Regions from separate parts of the Homo sapiens genome. Here region 1 is linked to region 2. The links come from fine-mapping of genetic effects on gene expression. A gene starts in region 2. The other region holds a variant in brackets. All regions are shown on one strand. Distances are from middle to middle.

Evidence for each region. PIP is the estimated chance that this variant, and not a neighbour inherited with it, causes the effect.
Region 1: its variant is the best candidate, but not a certain one, in a credible set for the expression of EPHA2 in liver (GTEx, PIP 0.54).

What each region holds. Positions count from the first base shown.
Region 1 is chr1:16,170,573-16,185,960 of GRCh38, forward strand. No RefSeq gene overlaps it. Among named protein-coding and RNA genes, the nearest start is that of EPHA2, 22 kb to the left of the region's middle. RefSeq lists a silencer at 5,362-5,656 and enhancers at 11,320-12,300, 13,128-13,627, 13,718-14,219, 14,220-14,719. The variant A/G (reference allele first, on the strand shown) is at 8,253.
Region 2 is chr1:16,153,030-16,166,152 of GRCh38, forward strand. It overlaps EPHA2 (EPH receptor A2), which reads right to left and starts at 3,040. Exons shown (of 17, transcript NM_004431.5): 1 at 2,819-3,040. The coding sequence starts at 2,903. It overlaps EPHA2-AS1 (EPHA2 antisense RNA 1), which reads left to right and starts at 2,186. Exons shown (of 3, transcript NR_187275.1): 1 at 2,186-2,726; 2 at 3,942-4,150; 3 at 11,727-13,123. RefSeq lists enhancers at 9,016-9,544, 9,397-9,466, 9,405-9,699, 9,545-10,072, 10,073-10,600 and 2 more.

The DNA.
Region 1 (15,388 bases), 19 kb after region 2:
CATCTCCACATTTTACAAATGAGGAAACTGAGACTCAGGGGCAGAGTTGGGATTTGAAGCCAGATCTATGTGGCTCTCACATGCTTGTACTCCCCTTGTTAACCTGGCATTTCCCCGGGAGAGGGGGCAAGGAAGGGGCACTGAGCCTGTAGATGTGGGAGGCTGCCCCAGAGATAGAATGCTGCTGGTGGAGGGGGTATGAGAGCTCCCTTTGGGGTCCTGCGGTCTTTGCCCCAATCCTCCACCCTTTTTTTTTTTTTTCCTTTGGAGACATAGTCTCACTCTGTTGCCCAGGTTAGAGTGCAGTGGCTCCATCACAGCTCACTGCAGCCTTGAACTCCCGGGTTCAAGCGAACCTCCCACCTCAGTCTCCCGAGTAGTTTGGACCATAGATGTGCACCACCACACCCAGCTCATCTTAAAAATGTTTCTGTGGAGACAGGGTCTCCCTGTATTGCCCAGGCTGGTCTCGAAATCCTGGGCTCAAACAATCCTTCTGCCTCGGCATCTCTAAGTGGTGGGATGACAGGCAGGAGCCGCCACCCCCAGCCCCTCTAACTTCTTATACAGGTGTGTGTGCACTTGGGTGAAGGCGTGCAAGCCAGGACATGGGTGCACATTGCATGTGAGTTCCCAGGTGAATGTTCAGGGTCGTATATGTGTCCACGTCTGACAGTGTGTATGTCCTGAGCAATGGAACTGGGTAGGGGACGGAGGCCCTGGCATACACAGGTGTCACGTGTCCAGGCAAGCCCGTGTTATTATCCTCCTTTTACAGATGAAGAAACTGAGGCATGGGGAAGTGAAGGGATTCGTTGAAAATCATGCAACTAGTGAGTCTGCCCATGGGGGTGTGTGTGTGCAGGTGTGTGTGCATGGTGGGTGGGGTGGAGTGAAGGGGGGGGGGCTGCCTGCAGCTCCAACCCTGTAATAGACCCTCCCTGTCTCGCCAGCGACGGGCGGTAATAACTGTTTTGCCCAGCAGAACTGCCTCATGCCATAGCTTGAGAATGTGCCTCGGGGCCCGTCTGCAGAGACCACCCCCCAGTCAGGGCAGCCGGGCCAGACCTCGCCCAAGCCTGACCCTAGGCTGATCCCTGGGAGGAGTAGGGATCTCTGGGCCCTGCCCTGCCCTGCCTTCCTCACCTCCAAGTTGGCCTCAGCAGGCCCAGCAGGTGAAGGGCCCAGGCCCTGGGCAGCCCTGCGAGTCAGTGCTACGTCTGCCCGCCTCTGCCTTCAGATCACAAACTTCCCGAAGATAAGAGGTGGTGACTCCTCTAGCAGACTGGAGGGCTCTTCCGGAAATGGAGTATATGTCCCCTCCTCAGAGGGCAGAGGCTGTGGCTTCCCCATGAGAGTGGAGGCTTCAGCAGGACAGAGGCCAGGCCTCTGCTATCAGACTAGGAGCTCCCTGAGGGCAGAGGCTGTGGGATATTCCCGGGGCAGAGGTGACCTTCCCCCATCAGACTGGGACCTCAGCTCAGTCCAGCAGCTCTACGGTGAATGTCTCCGAGGGAGGGGCATTAGCACAACAGACACTGCCTCTCAGCCCCGAGTCCCCAGATCCATGTCATCTATTGGAGTCTCCCCCACTGTAAACCTGCAAGGGCAGCCACGGCCGGGAGCAGCTGGTCCTGAGACTTGGGCAGAGGCCCTGGACAGTGGGGCAGAAGCGCTTGGCTGGCCAGGAATTGGATCACTGCCCCCTCCCACCCCACCCCATTCAGCCCTGTCTCCCACGGACTCTGACCACCCCTTGGTTCTCTTATCAAAAACCGCCAAAACCCGCCATCGAAACTCCCAGCCTCCTGACCCCCATGCCCCACCCGGCTCCACCCGTCTTCCCAACCTGGCATCCAGTGCCCCAAACCTGCCTATTCCGTTCCTGGGAAGACCCAGAAGGGAGCAGAGCTGGCACCAGGAGGCCAACAACCCAGGCCCCCTCCGTCCCTAGCCCCTCCTGGCCCTGGGCCCTCCACCCTACTGTTTCTCCTGGGGTGTGCCTTTCTTTGCCTTATGCCTCGGCATCTCTAAGTGGCAGGGGATGGAGTGGAGTGAGGGCGGCAGGCCAAGGGCATGGCCCATAATGAAAAAGGAATCTGGTTGGGCATGGTGGCTCACCCTTGTAATCTCAGCACTTTGGGAGGCCAAGGCAGGCAGATCATGAGGTCAGGAGATCGAGAGCAGCCTAGCCAACATGGTGAAACCCCGTCTCTACTAAAAACACAAAAATTAGCTGGACGTGGTGGTGGGCGCCTGTAATCCCAGCTACTCGGGAGGCTGAGGCAGGAGAATTGCTGGAACCCGGGAGGTGGAGGTTGCAGTGAGCCAGGATCACGCCATTGCACTCCAGCTGGGGCCAACAACAGCAAGACTCCATCTCAAAAAAAAAAAAAAAAAAAAAGAAAAAGGAATCTGAGCATGGAGGCACCCTCCACCTTCGGATTGCTAGGAGATCAATGTCTGGCCCCGAGTGGGTGAGGCCAGCCGAGGTCACTTGAAGGGTATCAGCCCTGAGGAGGAGTTCACGGGGCCTCTTCCTCTCGGCCAACCCCAGCAGAGCTTGGAAACTGAGGCCCAGAGCAGGAGTCCAGGCTCATAGAGCCGGCCTGGCAGAGGAGGGGTGGGGGAGTTGCGTCCCCACCATTCCCACTGGGGCATACAGCGCCTTTCTGAGCGTCACAGGCCTGTCTGTGTCCTTCTTTTGCGGAAGAACTAACCACACCTCAGGTTCCCCTTATGAAAGACAGAGGCTGAGGAGAGTGAGTCAGTTTTATTATATGAGATAAGGCGGCTGGACAAAGCAGCGACACAGGGACTGGCACACAGACAGTGCTCAGCGAAGCAGTCGCCTTCCTTCAGGTCTGAAATCCTCACTCAGCTCCCCAGCTTCTCTGGGGGATCTCCCTTCCCCTCTCTGGACCCCTGGGCCTGACTTCCCCCACTACTCCCAGCCTTTGTCCCACTCCTGCCCCAGGCACCCCTCCCTCCTTCATGGGAAATGGAGCTTCCTCCTCTGGTCCTGCCACCACCTTCCTGGTGAGGGTCGGGCTCTGCTGGGAGTGCCAGAGCTGCCCAGCCTGCTGACTCAGCGCCTGGGGATAGGGCTTGCTTTAGGAACAGCCCAGGCCTCGGGCAAACAGAGCCACGGCAACCACACCCCTGCCACAGGAATGCAGCAACATTCCTGGGGGGTGCCGTGGCACCGTGCCTGTGACTGGGGGGCAGGTGGGGGGCAGGTAGACACCTGCCTCTGTTACCTTGCCACAGGTAGAAGGGAGCCAGGAGTCAGGGCCCAGTGTCCTGGGGCAGGGGGATGGAGTGAGGTCATGAGGCTTTGAAATCTGTACCAGCCATGTGACTTGAACAAGGCCTCTCTGAGCCTCAGTTTCCTCACCTGTAAGGTGAAGGGAGAATAGCGGTAGCCTTCTGGTGGGCTTATGGGGAGGACTGAACGAGAGTGCGCCCGTCTGGGGCTCAGCATCAGCCTGCCTCACCGTGAGGATTCCGTGAAGCAGACCCTCACCCCTGTAATAGAATCAGGGGGTCTTCTGGCTCTGGGCCCTAGAATGGGGCTGAAGCCCAGAGAGGCAGTTGCACCTCCCCTAGGCCACACAGCAGGTATAGGCCCCAGGGGCTGAGTGCCCATCATGCCTGCCCTCCTCTCCATCCACCCAGAGCCTCACTAGCCAGACCCGCACTCTCCCATCCCCTGGGCAAGTCTGCACCCCAGGTCGGTGAGGACTCCCAGATTCTACTCCCACCAGCCAGGGCCAGACCTGGTGCAGGAGGCTCCACAGTTCTCCTGCTCGGGGCTCCGTCTCCCCACTTCCTGGAGCTCCATCCAAGTGGGGAACCCTGCCCGTCCTCTGCCCCTCAAGCCAACCAGGCATTTACGGGGGATGGGGCAGGGAGGGAGGCCAGGACCTGCATCCTTCCAGCCCTGGCCCTCAGCAACCCCATCAGGCAGTCAGGGGAGGAGCCTCCCCCAGGGAATCCTCCCTCCCTCTGTGTTGGCCTGGCCAGGTTCTCCTCTCTCTGTCTGCCTTTGTCTTTTTCTCTCTGTCTCTTCATCCCAGGAAGAGGCCACAGGACAGGGGTGTCCCAAGCACAGAAGAAACTTGTCTGATGAAAACAGGCCTTGGCTGGGAGCAGGGCCATCTGGATTTGCACCCTGATTCTGTCTGACTTGCTGTGTGACCTTGGGCGAGTCCCCTCCCCTCTCTGGTCTTTCCCATTATTATCTACCCAGCACATAGTAGGTTCTCGGAAAAGGGGAGTCACATATGCGTGCCCCCAGCTCTCAGCCCCTCACTGCCTCCTTTAATCCCCACAGATCTGCCAGCCTTTGATACTCCTGTGGGTGGCCGAGCCGGGGTTCTGAATAGGAAGCTGAGGGCTCATGGGCTGCGGGGAAGCAGGCAGGGGCTGAGCCTGCCAGGCCTGCCCGAGGGAGGGGGCTGTGGGCCCCTCGCCATTCACTGCTAAGCCTGGATCCGGGCGCCTTTGTGCCAAGAACAAAACCCGGGGGATCAGCTGTTCTCAGGCCTGCCTCTCTCAGCTCCGGAAGGGACGGAAGCCTGGGCCTGAGGGGTGGGCCGCACTCCCTCCATGGGCCCTGGGGTGCCGGGGCTGGCCCCATACCCCAGAAGCTCCCCACTACCTCCGGGTGTGGAGCTATGGTGGGCGAGCAAACCTGGGTTCAGATCCCACCTTCTACTCATCATGAGACTTGGGCAAGTGTTTTAAGCCCTCGGAGCCTCAGTTTCATGATCTGTAAAGTGGACATTAGAGTCGCTCGGGATGCGGGATGCTTGAATGAGATGATGCACTCAGCACGCGGCAGGCCCTGGGGCCCTGTGTGCTCTACAATTGCAGCTGCTATTAGACCAGCTTCTTTCTTGCCTGGGTATGTGGGGCTTAGGCCAGAACAAATCTTGGGACTGAGTGTAAAATATATGTGAGGGGGTGGGAGGGGGTGGGATGGGGCTCGGTGCGGGCCTGGCAGGTGTGCTGGGAGGCAAGGCCTATGACTCCTGTGGGCCTGCTCTTCCTCCCATCCCACCCTCCACAGTCCCCACCTCAGGGGCCCTGGGCCTGGGGCAGCAGGGGCCGGGATGTGTCTCTCCAGAGCAGGAACGGAGGGGCCTCCGCAACTGGTTGGGGAGGGGGGGTGGATGCCAGCCCCCGCTGATTAGGTCTCAAATTAAAGCCGAGCTTGCTCCTGTCGCTGCTCAGGCAGGCCCTCCTCCTGGCCACAGTTCCCTGCCTGGCCCTCTGCTTCGGGCCTCATGGTGGCTGGTTGCTCCCAGCCTAGAATTGCTAAAAGGCTCCCGTAGTGGGTAGGAGCCTCAGGGGACCTGGGAGAGGCTTCAGGGGCCCTGCCTGTGCGGGGGTCTCTCCTGTGACCCTCAGACCTGAGCCAGTGTCTGGGGACAAGTCACCGTGTCAGAGGCTGCGGAGAGCAAAGCCCAGGCGGTGATGACTTGAGTTTCCAGGCCGGGTGCCAGGAGGCCCGCGGTCACACTCCGCCTGGGGCCTGGGCTCCGGCCAACTGTCAGCAGCAGAGATTGTTGGGTTGGTTTTATTTTAAACAAAAAAGAACTTTGAGTGGAAACATGTGTTTCTTTTTTCTCCCCCTTCCCTCTCTCCCTATCTCTCTCCATCTCATCATGGAATATTTCTCTTTTTTGTACCTCCCTTTCTCTGTTTTTCTCTCTGTCTTCCTCTATTTGTCCCTGCCTCTGTCTCTCTCTCTCTCTCTCTCATTCTTTCTTTGTTTTCCTATCTCTTGATTTCTCTGTCTCTTTCTCTATTTCTTTTTCCGCAGCTTTCAGGAGTCAGGAGAGGTACCAGACTTCCTCCCTCGGGGTGTGGCCTGGGCCCCTGCCATAAAATCCCCAGGCGTGCCACGGCCCTATGTCGGGGGTCTGCCGCTCCAGGGGAGGGAGGGGGTGTCTAGCAGCGGAGGCTCCAGGACCCAAATGCTCCATCCTCCTCCATCCTCCTCCTCCAAGCTCCCACTGCCCCTGCATCTGCCCTTCCTGTGTCTGTTTTCTCTACTAAGCATCTAGAAAATAATTCTGCAGCTTGAGACAAGTTTTAAAACACTGGTCTGGCCCAAACCACCCATCTACAGCCAGAGACTGGCGCCGAGGAGGGGACCATGGCCTGCTCAACACCGCACGGAGGGTTAGGGGCAAAGCCAGGCCGACCCAGGTCCCCCACTCCCAAGTGACATTACTGACACCCCCAAACCCACAGTCACCACACTTCTCAGGTCCCTGCGTCTTTCAGAGGGGTGGTCTGCTTCCTAGGAAGTGATGTGCCCTCCCCTAAGGTGGTCACCCAGCACAAGGGTCCCCCTGGAAAATGTCCTGCCTTGGCTGGTCACCCCTCCCCCAGGACAGACAAGCTTTTGGGCCCCCACCTTTCAGCCCCTTCTGCCAGGCAGTAGAGAAGAGAGAAGAGAGACTCGCAGGCACAGTGGCTCATGCCTGTAATCCTAGCACTTTGGGAGGCCGAGGTGGGCAGATCACAAGGTCAGGAGATACAGAAGAGAGACTGGCCACCCATGCACTGGGCCCAGGTCCTAGCTCGACGTCTGAGTCCTTGTGTGACTGTGAATATGACTTTTCCACTGGCTGGCCTCAGTTTCCCCATCTTTGTAACAGAAGCCTTGCCTTTGCCGCGGATCCCCTCTCTGCTCTAATATGTTATGGTGTTCTCCTCTCCTTCCATGGAGAGGAATTCTGGAACATCAGACCAGGAGTGCCATCTCCTCTCCCAAAGTGAGAGGGACTGTCCTCAGTGTGGCCTCAATAGGTCAACTCCCCTTCACTTCAGGTTCCTTGTCCCCTGTGTGCAAGGGCCCCAGATGCCACCACCAAGGGGAGAGGTGCCACCATGACCTGGTGCACCATTGTCAAAGGTGCACTTTCTTGGGTGTCCGGGGTCATGCCAGGATTCATGCAGGGATAGGAGGGGCTGCCTGCGTGTCAGGGGCCCATTCCACCCCTGTCTCCCACAGCCCCAGGAGTAAAGTCAGGGTAAGTGTGCGGGATTAGTAAGGTGGGGACACGGGAGACTGTCTTTCCAGATTTGGGCAAACTCTGTCACCAGCACCTGGCTACTCCGACCTCCCCACTGCCTGGCTTCTGAAAGTGGCCCAAAGAGAAGGGCAGGGAGCCACATGGTCACCTCTGCTGGTAGGGAAAGAAAGACATGCTCCCAGGAGCCTATGAAGGGTGAGGCACCAGCCCTATTTCTGCCATCCCCTGACACACCTCCAAGGGCTGCAAAATGTGACCTTCTCCTGTCCTCACCAGTCCCTGAAGATCCTGCCACCTCTAGTTTGGAACATGGAAATGACTCCTTATAAGAGCCTTGAAGGTAGCAGCCATTACCACCCACTTTACAGATAGGGAAAATGAGGCACAGAAAGAGGAAGCATTTGCCTGAGTTTACACTGAGTGGTGTGCTCGCCCAGTTGGCTCTTGCAGGCTCAGGGAGAGTAGATTGTTCCATTTTCATGCATTTTGCAAGCCAAGTTTCATTGGTTGCTTGAAGTCAACTGTAGTGGGAGTATTTACACCACAGCAATCAGCAGTGACACTCTTCTTTTTCCTTTTTTTTTTTTTTTTTTTTGAGACAGAGTCTCACTCTGTCGCCCAGGCTGGAGTGCAGTGGTTCAATCTCGGCTCACTGCAACCTCAGCCTCCCGGGTTCAAGCAATTCTCATGCCTCAGCCTCCCAAGTACCTGGGATTACAGGTGCCCACCACCATGCCTGACTGATTTTTTTTATTTTTAGTAGAGACGGGGTTACACCATGTTGGCCAGTCTGGTCTCGAACTCCTGACCTCAAGTGATCCACCTGCCTCAGCCTCCCAAAGTGCTGGGATTACAGGCGTGAGCCACCACACCTGGCCTTCTTTTTACCCTTTTCATTTTTTTTTCTCTTTTCCTTTTAGAAAGCAGGTTGTTAAACATTTACCAGCTCACCACTGGCTGGAGGCCACAGCATTTATAGCGTCTCAGAAGGGTCTGGAGCTTAGAAAGTTTAAGAGCTTAGCAAGACTCCTCCTGTGTCTCAGGACCTGTGATGGATCTGAGCCTGTCTGACACCAAAGCCAAAGAAATGCCTTCCTTCCCTCACGAGGCCAAGAGTTAGCGTCTCTTTCTACCCCATCATGACAACTTCCTGTCCAGGGCAAGAAACTGTCCTGATTGTCCCTTGGGGGCAGGGATTAA[A/G]GGTACTACAGGTTCAGAGCCCCTGGCTAGCGTGCCCTGCCCTCTGACCACGTATGATCAATTCCATAAATATTTACCCAGCGCCTCACTTAACCTCCCTGAGCCTGTTTCTTCAAAGCTGCAAAATGGGGCCCTTCAGCCTGACTACTTTAATTCATCCATCCACCCATTCCTTCAGTTAGCGGCTCCCCTGTGCTGGGTGGTGTTTTTGAAGGATACTGGAGTCGGGATGCCTGCTTTGAGTCCTGGCTCTGGCACTGGCTTCCTCGGTACCATGGGCCTCAGCGTTCCCATCTGTACAATGGCACCCACATAAGGGTTCCTTCCAACTCCTTTCCCCATCTCAGGGGGTTGTTGCGGGATATCGGGGCTGGGGAACCTTGGCTAGCTGAGGAACTAGGCTAGCTGACACACAAAGGACCAGCAACAGTTCACGCCCTGGAGACAGAACGCGCCCACGTGATTCACACCGGCAGCAGCGGACTCTGTTTCTGTTGCCTTGAATGAGGTGCGCTCTAGTCTTGCAGAGTTTAGAAAACAAGGAGGTGTGGAATGTTCAGGGAAGACTTCCTGATGAGGTAATAATAACACAGGAACAGCTAATATTTGATGAGCACTTGCTGTGTGCCAGGGCTTGTGCTAAACACATGCTTCATCTTATTTAATCCTTGCAAAGAACTTGCCGGGTGGGAACGCATGTGCTACCCGTTTTGTAAATGAAGAACCTGAAGCCCAGAAGCCCAGAGAGTGGAAGTGATTTGACCAAGGTTTTTTTTTTATTATTATTATTATTATTATTTTATTTTTTTAGACAGAGTCTCACTCTTGTCGCCCAGGCTGGGGTGCAGTGGTGCAATCTTGGCTCACTGCAACCTCCACCTTCTGAGTTCAAGTGATTCTCCTGCCTCAGCCTCCTGAGTAGCTGGGATTACAGGCGCCCACCACCACGCCTGGCTAATTTTTGTACTTTTTTTTAATAGAGACAAGGTTTCAACATGTTGGCCTGGCTGGTCTCAAACTCGTGACTTCAGGTGATCCGCCCTCCTCGGCCTCCCAAAGTGCTGTGATTACAGGCGTAAGCCCCGCGCCCAGCCAAGGTTATTCATTTGTTCAGAAAACATTGATTGATGGGGAACTTTTGTTGAGTAGAGTTTCAGTTTGGGATGATGAAAAAGTTCTGCAGATGGACGGTGGCGAAAAGTTGCACAGCAATGTGAATGCACTTAATGCCACCGACCTGTACACTTCCAAACGCTTAACATGGTCGATTTTATGTTACATATATGTTACCACCATAAAAACACAAATGAAAAAGATTTACTGGGCCGGACATGGTGGCTCACACCTATAATCCCAGCACTTTGGGAGGCTGAGGCAGGCAGATCACTTGAGGTCAGGAGTTCGAGACCAGCCTGGCCAACATGGTGAAACCCCGTCTCTACTAAAAATACAAAAATTAGTCAGGCGTGGTGCTGCACACCGTGGTGCAGCTACTCGGGAGGGTAAGGCAGGAGAATCACTTGAGCCCGGGAGGTGGAGGTTGCAGTGAGCCGAGATTGTGCCATTGCACTCTAGACTGGGTGGGTGACAGAGTGAGACTCCATCTCAAAAAAAAAAAAAAAAAAGATTTACTGGTCCCCTGTTGTGTTTTAGGCATGAGTCAGATGCTGTGGATATAGCAATGAACACAGCAGACAAAGGTCTCTGCCTCTGTGAAACTGACATTGGAGAACAGCAGTCTAGAAGAACTTGCTGTGGATGGAATGATGAATGGATAGAAACGTTTTACATCTGCTCCGCACTGGCCGCACGCGGCTACTGAGCACTTGAGATGCGTCTGGTGCACCTGAAGAGCTGACTTTAATTTTATTTCATTTTAATTAATTTAAATTAATTATTTGTTTATTTGAGACAGAGTCTCGCTCTGTCACTCAGGCTGGAGTACGGTGGCGCAATCACAGCTCACTGCAACCTCTGCCTTCTGGGCTCAAGCCAGCCTCCTACCTCAGCCTCCTGAGTAGCCAGGACTACAGGTGTACACCACCACACCCAGCTAATTTTTTGCGTGCTTTTTGTAGAGATGGGGTTTCACCATGTTGCCTAGTCTGGTCTCGAACTCCTGACCTCAAGAGATCCACCCACCTTGGATCCCAAAATGCTGGGATTACAGGCATGAGCTACTGCGCCCGGCCTCTAGATTTAAATAGTACCTACCGAACTGGCCAGTGCAGCTCTAAAAGGTCAGCAGCATGTGAGTGGGAGAGCTGGGCCTGGCTGTGTGTTATTCACGTTCTTGAGTGTTGGCTTTCCACAGTTTGGGCCTCTGGCAGCAGAATCACCTGGGAAGCCAAAACTTCAGATCCCTGGGATCCCAGACCCACTGAATCAGAATCTCCGAGGCCAGGGCTTGGGCGTCTGCCCGTTCACCACACACCCCAGCTGATTCTGATGCACATGAGGTCAAGTTTGAAACCCACCCCACTGCCCTAGTTGTTCAAGACTCCCAGCGCTGGCTGGATGCAAAGTCTTATGCCTGTAATCCCAGCTCTTTTGGGAGGCCAAGGCGGGCAGATCACTTGAGGTCAGGAGTTCGAGACCAGCCGGGCCTACAGAGTGAAACCCCGTCTCTACTAAAAATACAAAAATTAGCTAGGTGTGGTGGTGGGCGCCTGTAATCCCAGGAGGTGGAGGTTGCAGTGAGCCGAGATCGCGCCGCTGCACTGCATCCTGGGCAACAGAGCGGGACTCCGTCTCAAAAAAAAAAAAAGACTCCCGGCCAGGAAGAGAGCTTGAATGAAGTCTGACCTGCACCAGGCCTTCTGGGCCCAGACCAGGCCTGCTTAGGGGCATGTGCCCTGCTCAGAACTTCCCCATCCCAGCTAACCCAGAAGATAGCTGGGATGAAGATAGCTACTTCCGGCTACCAGCCCATGATTCTTTGCCAGCCTGCACTGTTCCCTGAAGAGCAAAAAGACTTGGAATTTCCCTGCTCTATCCAGAGGGGCTGGGATGAGGGGTCCTGAGTTCCCTTATCCCATGTCCTACCAACCTCTGGAGCTCTCCAGTCAGCCAGCTCGAGGCTCTGGCCCTAGCTGGTGGGCAATGGGAGGGAGAGGCTTGGCCCAGCACCCCACCCCACAGATCAGCCTGGTCCGGCAAGGGGAGGAAGGAAGCAGAGGCAGCCTGGGCCAGCGGACACAGGGTTGGGGGTGACACAGGCCTCAGGAATTTGAAAACAAACACTTCGCCAGGGAAGGAAGAGGCTGCTGTTGGCTGCTGAGCCCGGGCGGGCCCAGGTCCCTCCCTTTCAGGGCAGGGGTGAATCCCAGTGCTGCTGACCATGGCCCCCGGCTGGACCCAGTGCTCGGGGAGTTTCCACTCCGCTGGTGGGATGGGAAGGTCATGGGAGGTGTGGGGGGATCCAGGCTCTGTCCAGATACGGGAGCATCCTGGCTGGGGTGAGGACAGGAAGGGACAAAGAGCTGGGAAAGCCACGAGACCCCAGGAGAAGGCTCAGCAGCAACAGGATGCCGCCTCAAGCATTTATTGAGCACCCATGGTATTCCAAAAACTGAGAATATAAGCACTGCCTAGCTGGGGAGATCAGGGGAAGCCTAGAGCCCTGTGGCCTTCCTGGAGGAGGTGGCATTGAACTGAGCCCTGAAAGGTAAACTAGGACCGGGGAGGACAGAATCTTACAAGTCTCCCCCCTTCACACTCCCAGAGCCGGCGCTCAGTGAGTGCATGAGTGAGTAAGCGGCTGACCAGCGACTATGCAGCATGAATGAATGACAGACTGAATGACATGAAGCCTGGAGTCTCAAGGCCGAGACTGCAAAAGAAGAGTCCATCCTCCTATCCCCTCTGCTCTGAACTCTCTTCATGATCCTGAAGGTGCTTGGTACCTGGAGACTACGGAGCCAGCCTGCCGGGGTTCTAGTCTGAACTCAGTCACTTCCCAGCTGTGTAACTTTGGACAAGTTACTTAACCTCTCTGTGCCTCTGGTCCCTTCTCTGTAAAGTGTAGTCATCGGCCGGGCGTGGTGGCTCACGCCTGTAATCCCAGCACTTTGGGAGGCCAAGGCAGACGAATCACTTGAGGTCAGGAGTTCAAGACCAGCCTGCCCAACATGGTGAAACCCTGTCTCTACTAAAAACACAAAAATCAGCCGGGTGTCGGGGGCAGGCACCTGTAATCCCAGCTACTCGGGAGGCTAAGGCACGAGAATTGCTTGAACCCGGGAGGCGGAGGTTGCAGTGAGCTGACATCTCGCCACTGCACTCCAGCCTGGGCAACAGAGTGAGACTCAAAAAAAAAAAAAAAAAATACAGAGGTAATCATAGTGCCTCCTTCACAGGGTTTTTGAGAGGACTGAATGAGTTTTACAAGTGAAGTGCTTAGAACGACGTTGCACATGTAGTGAGAACTACATGAGTGTTGGCCAATGCTATTACTGAGGTTCCAGCTTACGCGTTCATTGAGTCACTCACTCACTCACTGTTCATTCACTGATTCGCTCCTACATGCCATCCGCCACTTACACACCCCTCCCTCTTCACCGTCATCTGTTAAGCAATCCCCGTGTGCCCGGCTCTCTCCTCTCGGTCCTCCCAGCCCCCCTTTGCCAGTCTTGGATGGTGCCCGCCGTGCTGCCAATTACCCTAACAATTTCATTAATTCCTCTCAAGCCCAAAACAAACAAGAAGGACCTATCTGGAGCAGGGGTCACGTGCTAAGACCAGAAGCAGGTGTGGGACAAACCCTCTAGGACGAGTTCTTTGACCAGAGTTCATCACCGGAGCTGCTCCAGAGATGGCCAGGCCTCCCCACCTGCAGGTGCCCGGCCAGTGCCCCCCACCCCGGGCAGCCTCACCCACTCCCCTCTTTGAGTAAAGGTAAAGGGACTTGCCCAAGGCTGGGTTCTCCCACATCCCGACTGCACCTGTCCACATTTCAGGCTTCATTCATGCCAGGAGCCCCAGACCTGCTCCATGCACCAGCTCCGCCCAAGCCTGGAGCCCCGGGCTGGCTGAGGTGAGAGCCCCAAAGCTCGAGCCCATTTCAGCAGCTAACAATTAGAGCTGGTGTGAACATGATGACTGCATGCTGATTAATGTAAGATGGCTGAGCAGAAGATCCCGCCATTTCCTTCCCCACAGGCCCTGGGAGAACAGGTCCCGCTGGGGAAGACTCTGTCGTGTTCTGCAAAAGCCATTTCTTGAGCACGTCCTGCAGGCCGGGCACTGCGCTGGGCACTTGATTCCTTTCAACAGCATGACATGGTGGGAGGACAACTTGCCTCTCATTGATGAAGAAACGGAGGCTCAGAGAGGTAAAGGAACTTGCCCAAGGCCACACAGCCAGTCAGTGTGGTCCTGGAATTCCAATCCAGGTCTTCTCTTGCTGATTCCTACCCCCAGGGATGAGCCAGTTTGACATTTGTGGAACTGGAGAGAGGCTGGGTTTGGGCATAAGGTAATGTTTAGGCCAGAGGGTGGAGAAGGAGAGGACAGCCAGAGAGGCAGAGCCAAGCGCCAGGCAGGAACAATGGTACAGGGCAGGTAACGGGAGCCCGGCCAGCTCTGGGACTCCTGGGCAGGCCCTGCTGGGCCCTGCGAGCAACAGGCTCACCCTGTGGAGCTGCCAGGGTGACAGCAGCCTCGATCTGCTGACTCAACGAGTGCATCGGCCTTTTCCTGGAAAACAGTAGACGCAGTGTGGGTGTCGGAGGGAGGCACCTGTTTGGGAAAAGGGTGTGTGGGAACCCTGTCCTGCCCTGCAGCTCCCCACAGCCAGTGTACAGGTACTTAGCTCCAGGTGCCCCCCGAACCTCCCACCACCTGCCCAGACCCCAGAAGCCACCGGATCCAGGAGTCCGAGCCAGCTGTGGGCTGAGTCCATGGTGCCACCAAGGCTCTGCATGACCAGTGCTGCCAGCCACCACCTCAGCCAAGCAGCACAGCCTCTCAGGGCATGTCCCCACTTGCTGTCTGCAGAGCCTTGTTTTGCCCCACCCTGAAGGGGCAGGTGTAGACGAGCATTGAGGCAGGTCTATGTGACACCACTTGCTGTCACTCTTCTTTGGGAGGTATCAGGGCCACTCTGCCACGGGGCACAGCTTAGGGCCTCCATGGAATCTGGTCTGAAGGATCCCGCTGCCCAGAGGGGGGTCAAGAATACGGAATGGGTTCAGGAGCACCCCCTGTCTTCAGGATCCAGTTGGGGGAGGTCCCAGCAGGGCCAGTCACAGACACTTGTCACACCCTGGAGGGGATAATAGGATCTGGGGCTCAGCCTCCACCAATTTCATCACCACACACCACACCCAGGCAAGGGAGAGCAGAGGCATCAGCAGGGCCTGGCTGAGGGGCTGAAGCCTGGTGGGGAAGCAGGGAGGGCCCCTGGGCCTCTCGGTCCTATCTCTTCCCAATCCAGGCCTCAGCGGACTCCAGGGCAGGGGTGCGGGAGCTGATTTCCAGGTGCAATATTCACTGTCACCATGGCCGCTTCCAGCACCCAGCCTGAATTTCCTAGTGCAATGCTGGGAAGAACTAGTCTTTTTCTTTTTTTTTCTTTTTTTCTTTTTTTTTTTTTTTGAGACAAACTCCTGCACTGTCGCCCAGACTGGAGTGCAGTGGCACGATCTCAGCTTGCTGCAACCTTCGACTCCCAGGTTCAAGCGATTCTCTTACCTCGGCCTCCCAAGTAGCTGGGATTACCAGTGCCCCACCACCACGCCTGGCTAATATTTTTTTTTTTTTTTTTTTTGAGACGGAGTCTTGCTCTGTCACTGAGGCTGGAGTGCAGTGGCGCGATCTCAGCTCACTGCAAGCTCCGCCTCCCGGGTTCACGCCATTTTCCTGCCTCAGCCTCCCAAGTAGCTGGGACTACAGGCGCCCGCCACCACGCCCGGCTAAGTTTTTGTATTTTTAGTAGAGACGGGGTTTCACTGTGGTCTCAATCTCCTGACCTCGTGATCCACCTGCCTCGGCCTCCCAAAGTGCTGGGATTACAGGCGTGAGCCACCGTGCCTGGCCAATTTTTTTGTATTTTTAGTAGAGATGGGGTTTCGCCATGTTGACTGTGGCTGGTCTCGAACTCCTGACCTTATGATCCCCCTGCCTTTGCCTCCCAA
Region 2 (13,123 bases):
GGGAGCCCCTCGGCTGACCCAGACGGCTTCCTGGAGAGGCTTAGGCTAAGCAGGGCTTATCCATGAGCTCTCTATCCCCTTACCTTCCCATTTCTGGGGGGAAAAAAAAAAAGCAAAAAACACCTCCTTCTTTGCCATGAGTTCCACCGTAAGTGCCATCTTTGTGGGTCCACATTGCTCCACAGCTTCTTCCACAAATGCAGGACTGCCACCCACTCCCGGTCTCCGGTCCTTCTCCGCAGCCTCCGAGGCTGTGGTTCCCTCCCCGCTTCCCCCATTCCTCTCTAACCAAGACTAGCTAATCCCTAAAGGAAGCAGGGAGGTGGGGACTCTGGGGAAAACATGAAAGAAAAGGGAAAGGGGACAGAGGGCAGACTTGGCCCCGGTAGAACCAGAAACCAAGGACTTCCTGGCACTCTCCAGCCCTCTTCCCATCAGCAGCACCCCAGCTCAGCACCCCCTGCCACCCGCCCAGGCCCCTGCCCAGCTATGCCTGCTTCCCAGGAAAATCTACCATGACACCAACCACAAAGCAGGCAGGGCCTTGGCTCTGGCAGCCAAGAAGCGGGATGCTCAGGTCTGGTCCTCTGTCCAGAAGGCCCTGGTTGGCAAGGGCTCGGGCCTCCCTCAGTTTCCCCATTTGTAAAAATGAGGGCAGATTCAGTGGCTGTTGATGACCTAACAGGAGCCACGTGGGCAACCAAGTATAGCCTAGGGGTGAGGGGGCAAGAAAGAAGTCTGAAGCAGCCTGGGGGTAGGTGAAAAAGGCACCTGTGTCCTCCTGCCTGCCCCCTAAGCCACCCCCAGGCAGACCCACCACATACAGCCTGATTCCCAGGAACTGAAACCAGCAGCTGCCAGCTAGGCCATCATGCCCACCCCCACCTAGGCACACTTCTCTAGGGACTCTTTCACGGGGACTCAGAGTCGAAGCAAAAATGTACCCCCACCCCAGTGCAATACACAAGCCTTTCCCCCTGCATCCCATGGGGTGTGGGGGTGGGGTTTAATCACACAGGCTGGGGAGAGGTGGACACAGGGGACAAGGACAAGGCAGCTCCAGGCTTCCAGGCCAGCTTGGGGACTGCAGCAGCAAAGCACCCGCCTAATCCCCCACCCCCCCATGGGCAGCCGAGGAGAAAGGCCTATAGTGATTCCAGCTGTCTCTCCCCTTCTCTCCAACCACAGTCCCCCAGGAAGGGGGAGGACCAAACGTTGGTGGGGCGGATATTGAGGGTGGCAGAAATCCTTGCCATGAGCTCCTGCAACCAGAAGTCCCGGTTGAGACCCCAACCCGGGCCCTGTCACTCCAGAGACTGAGACAGGATGCCACCCCCAACACCTGCCACTGCCCAACGGCTCCAGATCCGGCCTCTTTTCCTCCCAACACAGAACAGCAAAACCTCCAAACCCAGTTTGGGAGGCAGAAAAAGAAGGAAACAGGCCGGGGGTGGTGGCTCATGCCTGTAATCGCAGCACTTTGGGAGGCCGCGGCGGGTGGATCACCTGAGGTCAGGAGTTCAGAATCAGCCTGGCCAACATGGTGAAACCTCGTCTCCACTAAAAGATGCAAAAATTAGACGCGCCTGGTGGCGGGCACCTGTAATCCCAGCTACTAGGGAGGCTTGAGACAGGAGAATAGCTTGAACCCGGGAGGCAGAGGTTGCAGTGAGCCGAGATTGCGCCATTGCACTCCAGTCTGGGCAACAAGTGCGAAACTCCGTCTCAAAAAAAAAAAAAAAAAAAAAAAAGAAGGAAACTTCTCACCGGCCCAAGTTTCCTCCCGGCTTCCCCCTTGTGGAGCCTGCGGAAACCTCGCTCTGCCCAGGCAGGAGGGGAAGCCTTGCCCTCACTGTTGGAAATTGAAGCTGGCCTGGGCTGGGTGGACAGGAAGGTCTTCGGCCAGGGCAGGAGCCCCCATCCTCGCCCTGACCCTAGCGGAGGGACAACACCCCCACCACGCACCCGCTGCGCCATGAGCAAAGTCTGCGGCCCCTCACTCGGCGCGGCTCCGGGAACACTGGGGCGGGGGTGGGTGATTCAGTCCCCCACCCCCGGGTGTCCTGACTCCCTGGTGGCCCTGGGCTGACAGCTCCACACCTTGGGAGGCCGCACCCCCACCTGCCGCATTTCCTCGTTCTGAGTCACCCTTGCTCAGAACGCTTGACTTTGGGACTTCCTGTCCGCACTCGCGGCCCCTAACCTGCCCCGGGAGCCCGGGAGTGCGGCTTGGGAAGGAGGGAAAGGAGTGTGTGAGCAGGGATTGGCCCGAACCTATCTCCACGCTCTCCCCCGGGACTGGAGGTGAAGGGGGGCGTGGAGAAAATCTCAGGGAACAGGGGCTTCGACAGGGGGCTCCCGCCCGCCCGAGCCCCCTCCCCAAAATGCGAGGCCTGCACAGTATGCCTTCTCCGCAAAACCTCGGCAAGCGGGTTAGTGAATTCAGGTCACTAAGAAGCTGAGCCCGCGGAAAGCTGCCCAAACACCCCCTTCTCTAGGGGACTCCCCACGCCCCCCGCCGGGACGCGTTCCCGAAGTCGCCGCCTGGACTGCAACCGCGTGGCCTGCGCCGCGTCCTCTTCTCCGCAGCCTCCGAGGCCCGTGCGACCAAGCTGAAACCGCTTATTCTCCGGAGCCCCTATGACCCCGGGTGGGGGCCAGGGCTCGCCTCGATCGCAGCCCGTGCGCCCTCCGGACTCCAGTTCGCCGGGACTGGGCGACACCAGGTAGGTTCCAAAGTTGCGCGCGTCAAGGAGCGCCGGGCTCTAGGGGGCACTGGGGCCCGGGGGCCAGGGGTCCAGACGCCGCGCGCACTCACCTTCCTTGCCCTGCGCCGCCGCGGCCGCGGCCAGCGCACAGCCCCACAGCAGGGCGAAGCAGGCGCGGGCTGCCTGGAGCTCCATGCCGCGCTTCTCGCTCTCGGTCCGATCCCCCCGAGCCCGGCTCCCGCACACCCGCACGCCTGCACGCCGGCCTCGGTGTCCGCTCCCGCCCGCCGGCCTGCGCGCAACTTCTGCCCCTCCTGCCCCGAGTCCTTAATGGAAGTTGGGTGAGAACCGACTCCTGTTCATTCATGCCCTGCGTGACGTCACCAACGCCCGCCCTCAGGAATGTCTTTAAAGGGGCCGGGCTGGCACCCGGAGGAGAGGGAGGGGAAGTCCGGAGGGGTTTGGAGGAGGACCTTGGGGCCCTCTGGACTCGCGGGCTCCCCGCAGGCCTTCCAAAGTTTGAGCGTCTCAAAGCGCCAGCGCCCCTACGGATTAGCCCCCAGGGATCTCTGAGCCTGGTATCCTCGGTGGAAACGTTTAATGGTTTTGCGCTGAGCCATACCCATTCTGCCCTTCACCTCTGAGACTGAGCTCAATGCGACTGAGCTCAACGCTGGCCTGAAGGTCTGAGCTGAAATGGATTGGGGGTCCAATAAGCAGTTGCCTCCTAAGCAGCAGGCCTGAGAGAGTGGCCCAGAAATAGACCTGGATGCCCTCCTTCCTAAAACCCTTGAAGAGTATATCAAGCTGCTGATGGTCAAAAAGAGTATCTCTGTTCAGAAGCCTATAAGCCTACTATGATCTGAGAATAGGTTCATTTCCTCTGGGAATGGATCAGACATGCACTATCTTATTTATTAATAATTCTCATCTGGGAGGCAGGGGTCATCATCCCCATGTTACAGAAGAGGAGACTGAGGCTCCAAGAGCAGAAACAACATGCCCAAAGGGTGCACAGCTCACGGGTAGTAGAAGCAGGATTTGAATCCTGGTGGTCTCTGCTTGAACCACTGCTTCTTTTTGGGGAAGGGGGCAAGGGGCACCCCTGGCCCCCGACCCTGGCATGGGTTGATAGGTTTTGACAGTTTGGAGGACACCTGCCTACCACCTGCCCCTTGATAAGGCCTCTTCACAAAACTTCCTCAGACATGAGCTCATCTCCCTTCCTGACAGAAGCGGCTAGTGTGAGTGAAACAAACGGGAAATTTGCTCTGGCCCGCCTGCCCAGCCACCCACGGCTGCCTGTTGGCCAATCACCATTTGACCAGTCCAGGAAGAGCAACTGTGGCAGGCCTGATTTCCTGGGAGGCCCCAGACTCCCTTTGCCTACCTCTTCCTCTCTGACCCCATCCTCGCTTTGATGCCCGGGACCTGCTACCCAGGTACGTGGGTCTTCTCTGCCGGATGTGGACATCTTGGCCTCTCGCCTTGGTGCCTACTCTTGGGAAGCGGGTCCAGACATCTCTCCTGCAGGAAGAGAGGAAGGGTTAATTACAGGCGTTGGGGATAATTAAAGCCTTTGACCAAGAGGATGGGAGGAGAGCCTTGGTCCTCTGAGAGCCTGTGAGTGTGCAAGTGCCTGTGAGAATAAGTGCATGTGTATGAGGGTGTGAGATTTTGTTGAATGTGCATTCGTGTGTATAGACATGAGAGTGTTGATGTATGTATGACTGTGTGTGAGTGTGTGTATGGACATAAGTGTTGTATGTGACTGGGCAGGGTGGCTCAGGCCTGTAATTCCAGCACTTTGGGAGGCCGAGGCAGGCAGATCATTTGAGGTCAGGAGCTCCAGACATGCCTGGCCAACATGGTGAAACCCCGTCTCTACTAAAAATACAAAAAAATTAGCTGGGCGTGGTGCCACTCACCTGTAATCCCATCTACTAAGGAGGCTAAGGCAGGAGAATCACTTGAACCCCAGAGGCAGAGATTGCAGTGAGCCGAGATTGCGCCACTCACTGCACTCCAGCCTGGGCCAGCAAGACTCTGTCTCAAAAAAAAAAAGAAAAAAGTGTTGGTATATGTGTGTATAAGTGTGTGTGCATGGGCATGAGAGGATTTGGGTATGAGTGTGTGTCTGTGTGTGTTTTTGTGGATTGTGTGGATGTGTCTAGATGTGTGTATGAGTGTGCATGTGGGTGTGAGAGATTTGTGTATGAGTGCATGTGAGTGTGGATTTGTGTATGCATGTATTTGTGAGTGTGCCATACTTCACAGTAGATGTGGAGTCAGCCCATGAGTTTCTGAACAAGTTATTTCACTTTTCTGAGCCTCAGTTTGCTCCTGGAAAGATGTAAAGCCTATTTAGGAGAGTTACTGTAAAGATCAAATAAAGTCATGCATGTAAACCACAGGGGCCAGGACTACAGAAAGCACGCATGAAATCTCAGCTGTTACTGGGTTACATGCGGTTCAGCAACAGGAAGCCACATCCGTGGAGAGCAGGGCATGTGTTGTGCCCAGGGCTCTGTGGACAGGCACATGGGGTGTGTGGATGAGTGTGAGCATGTGTGTAGTACGTGGTTTGGATAAGTGTTTTGCATGTTGTATTGGAGCCTCTGGGCTAGGGACACTGGCGTGTGTAAGACTCCATGTGAGTTGTGTGGAAGCCACTGCTTGTACATGTGTGTTACATGCCACTTGCAGGCTCCATCTGTCAGATGTGTCACTAGAGGACACACTGCAGGAGGACAGGGATGTTTGTAGAAAACAGACAGTGCCTGGGCCAGGCGCGGTGGCTCACGCCTGTAATCCCAGCACTTTGGGAGGCCGAGGCAGATAGATCACTTGAGGTCAGGAGTTTGAGACCAAGCTTGTCATCATGGTGAAACCCCGTCTCTACTAAAAATACAAAAATTAGCCGGGCGTGGTGGCGCATGCCCGTAATCCCAGCTGCTCGAGTTGGAGGCAGGAAAGTCGCTTGAACCCAGGAGGTGGAGGTTGCAGTGAGCCGAGACCGCGGCACTGCACTCCAGCCTGGGTGACAGAGCGAGAGCCAAAAACAAAAAAAGAAAACAGACAGTGCCTGATACATACTAGATATTCAGCAAGCCTCCGCTGAATGAATGAACTAATGAGTGAATGACAGTGTTGCGAGTTCTGTGTTGCGTGAAAGTCTCTGTGTGTAGTGTTGGTTGGTCCTTCTGGTGGCAAGTGTGGGTTTCCATGTGTGGCCTCAAAAGGTTGAATCCAAGCACACACACGGCAGGGGTGCAGGCAGGCCCTGATGGCTGTGGGGCGTGTGCCCAGCAGTATGTGCACAAGTTGGGGGCTGAGAGCATAGGGCAGGGTGTTGCTCATCTGCAGCATGTGACGTGAACAGAGGCCTATGGAAAGGAGTGGTATGTCAGGTGGTGGCAAGAGGGTGTTCCACCTGGCTTTTCCCTGGCTTTTAGTCACCCATTTAATGACACACCCTTCCCTCTTTTCCTGTCCGACTCAGAGTCTTTCCCGCTCTAGGTGACTGGGTGCTAAGGAGGAAAGTTCTTCAGTGAGTCTTATAAAGCGGCACCAAAACGCGGTATTTATAGTGACATAATCAGCCCTAATGGAGATGGAATTACCCCATAAAGGCCCCAAGGAGCCCTCAGGGCCTCAGCGCCACTGCAGCAGACAAGGCTCCTGTACAGGCAGGTGGAGCCCGAGTGAGTGTGTGTTTGTGTGTGACTGCCTCTCCTGCCAATCCCTGCCTCCGGCCCACCAGCCTGCTTAGGGGCCCACCTTTGCTAGGACTTAGCTGGGGCTGGGTACTGGGGGCAAGGAGATGACAAAGGTGAATGCTGAAGCCATGGCCTCACTTACCCCACCTTTGATCTGTGCCTGCCTTTGGCCAAGAGCATCAGAAAAAAAATAATGCGGCCTGGGCAATACAGTGAGACCCCATCTCTACAAAAGAAAAAAGAAAAAAAATTAGCTGGGCATGGTGGTGAGCACCCGTGGCCTCAGCTACTCGGGCGGCTGAGGAAGGAGGATTGCTTGAGCCTAGGAGGTCAAGGCTGCAATGAGCCGTGATTGCACCACTGCACTCCAGCCTAGGCAACCAAGTGAGACCCTGTTTCAAAACAAAATTTTTTTAAAAAAAGAAAAGCAAAGAAAAAAACTGTAGCCAATACTTATGAAGCACTACTATGTGCCGGGCCCAGTTCTAGGCACTTATCTGTACTGATCCACTTAGTTCTCATGACACCTTCAGGGAGGTGGCCACTGCTCCTGCCCACATTTTGCAGAAGAGCAAATTTGGAAGTAAAATTTGGAGCTGGCATTCTGGCCCAGACAGGCTAGATCCAGCGCGCACTCTCATGGGTACCTGCCTCAACCATTGCCTCTGAATTCCACTGAACCTGGAGAGCAGTGCCCCGTCCTGGAATGTGCCAACTCTCCGCAGCTGGGATCTTTAAGGTCAGTCTAATTACTACCTCTTGGGTGAAACCCCCAGGGATCAGGCCCCCCCTAGAGCCCCAGGGGCCTCCATGCTACATGCCTACCAGCACCCTGCTCTCAACCAACTGAACTCTTTTTTGTTTTTCAAAGCCTCTGAACTATCTTCTCAACTAGACTGTAAATCCCTCAGAGGCAGGGTATGAATCCAGCAACAGGTAGAACAGTTCCCCACACATTCTGCTCAATAGATGCTAATTTTTTTTTTTTTTTTTTTTTTGAGACAGAGTCTTGCTCTGTCCCCCAGGCTGGAGTGCAGTGGCGCAATCTCAGCTCACTGCAACCTCCACCTCCCGGGTTCAAGTGATTCTCCTGCCTCAGCCTCCTGAGTATCTGGGATTACAGGTGCACGCCACCACACCTGGCTAATTTTTGTATTTTTAGTAGAGACAGGGTTTCACCATGTTGGTCAGGCTGGTCTTGAACTCCTGACCTCATGATCCGCCCTCCTCGGCCTCCTAAAGTGCTGGGATTACAGGCGTAAGCCACTGTGCTTGGCCTTAGATGCTCACATTTGATGGTGACATTCTAAATTAGTTTCCTCCATTCATTTCCTTTTTTTTTAGACGGAGTCTTGCTCTGTCACCGAGGCTGGAATGCAGTGGCGCAACCTCGGCTCACTGCAACCTCCACCTCCCGGGTTCAAGGGATTCTCCTGCCTCAGCTTCCCTAGTTGCTGGGATTACAGGCACACACCACCATGCACAGTTCATTTTTGTATTTTTTAGTGGAGATGGGGTTTCACCACGTTGGCCAGGCTGGTCTTGAACCTCTGACCTCAAGTGATCCTCCCACCTCGGCCTCCCAAAGTGCTGGGATTACAGGCGTGAGCCAGCACGCCCAGCCCCCTCCATTCATTTCTTTTTTTTATTTTTTATTTATTTATTTTTTAGACAGAGTCTCCTTCTGTTGCCAGGCTGGAGTGCAGAGGTTCGATCTCGGCTCACTGCAACCTCCACCTCCTGGGTTCAAGTGATTCTCCTGCCTCAGCCTCCCGAGTAGCTGGGACTACAGGCACGCGGCACCACGCCCAGATTTTTGTATTTTTAGTAGAGACGGGGTTTCAGCATGTTAGCCAGGATGGTCTCCATCACCCTCCCAAAGTGCTGGGATTACAGGCGTGAGCCACCACACCCAGACCCCTCTGTTCATTTCAATCCACATTTCTTGAAGGCCTGCTCTATGCCAGGCCACTTCACCTCTGTAAACTCATTTAATCCTCTCTAGCCCTGGAAGGAAAAGCTAATATTGCCTCCATTTTTGCAGAAACAACGTGAGGCTCAGAGAGAAGAAATGACTAAAATTACACAGCTGGTACATGGCAGAGGTGGAACTAAAAAGTTAAGTGTGTCTACCCCAGAGCCGAGTAGACCTGCTCTTTTTTGAACACTTCCTGGACTTTCATGCCTTTGTCCCAGCTGTGCCCTCTCCCTGGATGCCCCTTCCATCTGGGCAGCTCCTACTAGACCTGCCTTGGCATACATAACACAGGAGAACGGATTGCCAAAGGGTAGGAGAGTGCCTGGTCTATAGTGTGCGCCCAACACAGATTTGGTGAATGAATGAACACTGGGTCCAGCAGACCTGGATTCTTCCATGTAACCCACTGTGTGGCCTTGGTGGAGCCATGCGGGTGCAATAATCCTGGTTTCCACCCTTCAGGGCTGCTGCTGGGACTCAGTGAGATCATCATGTATCTAATGCCCTTTGCTCAGTGCTGGGCACACAGTCAATGCGCATTGAATCTTAGCTATTGCTACCTTTACAATCAATCAAAAGTCACTTCTGAAGAATAGACAGGGCTCCCCCAGGCCAAATAAATAATTCCTCCCGGGACAAACCCCAGCTCTCACTCCCTCCTCTTTAGGCAGGGGGCTCCCTGAAGGACAGAGACCCGGTTTTATTCCATCTTGCCGTCCCCCATGGTGCCGGGCATACAGTGGTGCCCAGTAAACGTGTGTGTTGCACAAACATGCGGTAACTAGGGCCCCATCTTTTTCAAAAGAACACACTCCCCAGGTGCAGCCGCAAAGAGAGACTGTTCAGCTGTTCAGGTGAGGTTTTGGGGTGAAACTCGTCTGAATAATAGTTTTACTGAACACAGCCTCACCCCCAACAAGGAGGCAATTTGAGGTGGGGGTGGGGAGACTTAAATGTGGGCTCCCGGGTTTTAAAGGGGGTAGCGCGGGAGGAAGCCCCCCAATAATTGCGGGGCTTCCCCCACCCCCAGAGCTGGATTAGAGGCTGCGCCACTTCCTTTGGGGCTCGCTCGCGCTTCCTGGGAGCCTTTGATGTGGGTTCTTGGTAGATCCTGCCCGCGGGGCCTGGATGCGGGCGGAGCCTCCGGGCAGGGCGGGGCCTCAGCCTGGGTCCGCACTGGGGAGGCGGCCACCCGGTAGCTTGGGCGGGTTCCGCCCACCTCCCGCCTGTATTTACAGCCCCCTTCCAACATCCCCGACTCCCTGAGGGCGCCCCTCATTCTGCTCGGCCTTGCCTTCCCCATTCGGCCACATCCTCCTCTCTCCCAACTCAGCTTCGACCCCCAAAGCCTTTCCCTAACCATCGGAACCACAGGCTTTTCTCCGGCCTCTGAGTGCCAGTCTTCAACTAGGTGTCTTTTAAAAAATCAAAAAGCATCTCATCCTACGGGATGTGTGTGAAAAAATAAAAATAAAATAAAGAAAAAGGGGGCCGGGCGCGGGAGCTCACGCCTGTAATCCCAGCACTTTGGGAGGCCTAGGCGGGCGGATCACCTGCAGTCAGGAGTTCGAGACCAGCTTGACCAAACTAGAGAAACTCCGTCTCTACTGAAAATACGAAATTAGCCGCGCATGGTGGCGCATGTCTGTAATCCTAGCTACTCTGGAGGCTGAGGCAGGGGAATCTCTTGAACCTGGGAGGTGGAGGTTGCAGTGAGCCGAGATAGCGTCATTGCACTCTTGCCTGGGCAATAACAAGAGCGAAGCTCCATCTCCAAAAAAAAAAAAAGAAGAAAGAAAAAAAGAAAAAGATAGCCCATCGCTCCTCCATTGCAGACCCAAAGGCTGTCAGCTGAATGGAAGGTGCTTCCTCACGACCTTTGGGATAAGTAAATTTGAAGTAATAGAAATAGCCAGCTGGGCGCGGTGGCTCATGCCTGTAATCCCAGCACTTTGGGAGGCTGAGGGGGGCAGATCACCTGAAGTTAGGAGCTCGAGACCAGTCTGGCCAACATGGTGAAACCCCGTCTCTACTAAAAATAATTAGCCAGGCGAGGTGGCGTGCACCTGTAATCCCAGCTACTCAAGGAGGCTGAGGCAGGAGAATAGCTTGAACCCGGGAGGCAGAGTTTGCAGTGAGCTGAGATCGCGCCATTGCACTCCAGTGAGCCGAGATCGCACCATTGCACTCCAGCCTGGGCAACAAGAGCGAAACTCCATCTCAAAAAAAAAATTTTTTTTGAAAAATAGGCCAGGCCTGCCTCAGTGCTCTTACACGTACTGTCCCCTCTGCCTGGATCAGTTTGTGCCCCTGCCCCCAAATTTTCAGGGCTGGCTCCCTCGCCTCCTTCAGATCTCTGTTTGAAGTTCAGCTCATGTCTGCCACATGTCCTAACCACCGTATTTAAAATAGCAGCCTCAGGCCAGGTGCGGTGGCTCACGTCTGTAATCCCAGCACTTTGGGAGGCCAAAGCAGGCAGATCACCTGAGGTTGGGAGTTCGAGACCAGCCTGACCAACGTGGAGAAACCACATCTCTACTAAAAATACAAAATTAGCCGGGCGTGGTGGAGCATGCCTGTAATCCCAGCGACTCTGTCTCAAAATAAAATAAAATAAAATAAATAAAATAAAATAAAATAAAATAAAATAAAATATAAAATAAAATAAAATAAAATAAAATATAGCAGCCTCTCACCCCACTCCACCTCTGGACTCCCTGTCCCCCTTCCTTGCTGTATTTTTCTCCATAGCAATTACCACCACCAGCTGCCACACTCCAGAGATTACCGTTCGTTTGTCTATTGTCTGTCTCCCCCTGCTCACACCACCCCCATTCGTGTGTGAGCTCCAGGAGAAGGGCCGGGGTTGCTGCTGCTCTGTGAGTCATGAACCGTCCCCACCCCCTAGTCTGTCCTACAAATTTGTTAAATGAATGAGCAAATAAACATAGTGGCTTCCCAGCTGACCAGTGATGAAAGCTTACACTGCGTGATCTAGGCTAGTCACTGCTGTCTTTCCCTCCCTCTCCTCATCAGTGCATTGAGAGATGACAGTAGCTCGGCCTCTTAGAGCAGTATGACGATGGCACAAGTTACTATTTGCCAAGCACAGAGCATGACGTCATGCCCAGAAGCCCAGGATACAATCCAGAGACAATGACAAATGGGGGATTCCCGCTTCTGCAGAAGGTGGGGCGACTGGTGCCCAGGGGCCCCCAGGAAGTGCCCTTACCTGACTCCCAGGATCCTCCTCTGTGACCCTGGGGCCTTCCAACCTGCCAGGTACTTTTCCTGTATTATCTTATTTTATCCTCCCAATAGCCTCTGTGAGCAGCACACTCCCCATTTCACAGACAAGGAAACTGAGGCTTACACAAGTGAAGTGACCTGCTCGACGTTGCACAAGGAAGTGGCAAAGTCAGCCTCTGAATCCAAGCCGTTGGGCTCTAAAGGCCCTGATGCCACTCAGCTAACCATGTGGCCTCTGGACATCACTGCCATCTTTTCTCTTACCCTCCTCTCCTCCTTGCACTGTGTTCTGAGGGTCAGCCTGACAACCCGTGTCCCCTGGGCAGATGTGCAGAGGAAGATCAAGTTGTTGTTCGCCAGGGGCCGAGGGCAAATTTCTGGCTTCCCACGGCCACCACTTACTGGGAGTTTCGGATGAGGTGCTTCACTGCCCTGAGCTCTTCTTCCGGGTCAAGTGGGGATAAAAATAAAACAATACCCACCTTGTGGGAAGACATGGGATCCTGAAAAACCTGGCAACGTGCCTGGCACATGGCAAGTACTCCGTAAATGTCAGCTAGGATTATTTTTATCATTGACACCATATTTGGGGGCCCCAGGCTGGCAGAGTACCTGCCAGGTGTCACCCCCTTCCTGAGTCCTGACAGTTTGGCTGCAGGCCTGCGTGGAGGCTTGGAAGGAAGAAGGGAGGAAAGGAGGAAAGGAGGAAAGGAGGAAGGGGTCAGGGAAGCCCCTCTGTTTGTTTTCTGTCTCTGAGAACTTCCCAGTCTGACTCTAGCCCCTTCCCCTCCCTGCAGGCACTAACACACAAGTCCCCCATTCACCAGAAATCTGTCCCAGGCTCCCTGGCTGCCATGCTCCCTGGATAAACCCACCAGGATGCCCTCAGCCCCTGAGGGAAGAGGAGAGAGCTTACACTCCTCCGGGCCCCTATTTCCACGCCCATCACCAGGCCTGGGCCCTCACAAGGCTACACACACACCAGGAAGTGCCAGGAACACAGCCACGCCAGAGCTCTCACAGATGCCTGTGCACACACACACACACACACACACACCTTTCCAGGCAAACTTGCATACACTTTCCTAATGGCCAGGTCTCAGGGGCTCTGTAGGGACCACCTCGGGACAGGACATGGTCTTCCCTCCCCCATTCCCATTCCCCTTCCTGCCCTGTTTCCCTCTGTCTGTCCATCCATCTTCATCAACCAGTCCCAGTGGGCCCCTGCTCACTCCCTCCGTTCCCCCTCCATCCGTCCGTCCACACATGGGTCCATCTGTCTGTCGCCTGCCTGTAGCTAGCCCTGCAGTGAGCAGTCTATCCCTACCCAGCCCTGCCCATCACTTCTGCCACAACACCCCTGCAAGATCCTGTCCCTGTCCTCAGCAGGGTCTCTCATCATTTCTCTAGAACCCACCCATCTATCCCCCCACCCCTTCAGCTGTGTCCTTCATCTGTCAATCTGTCCA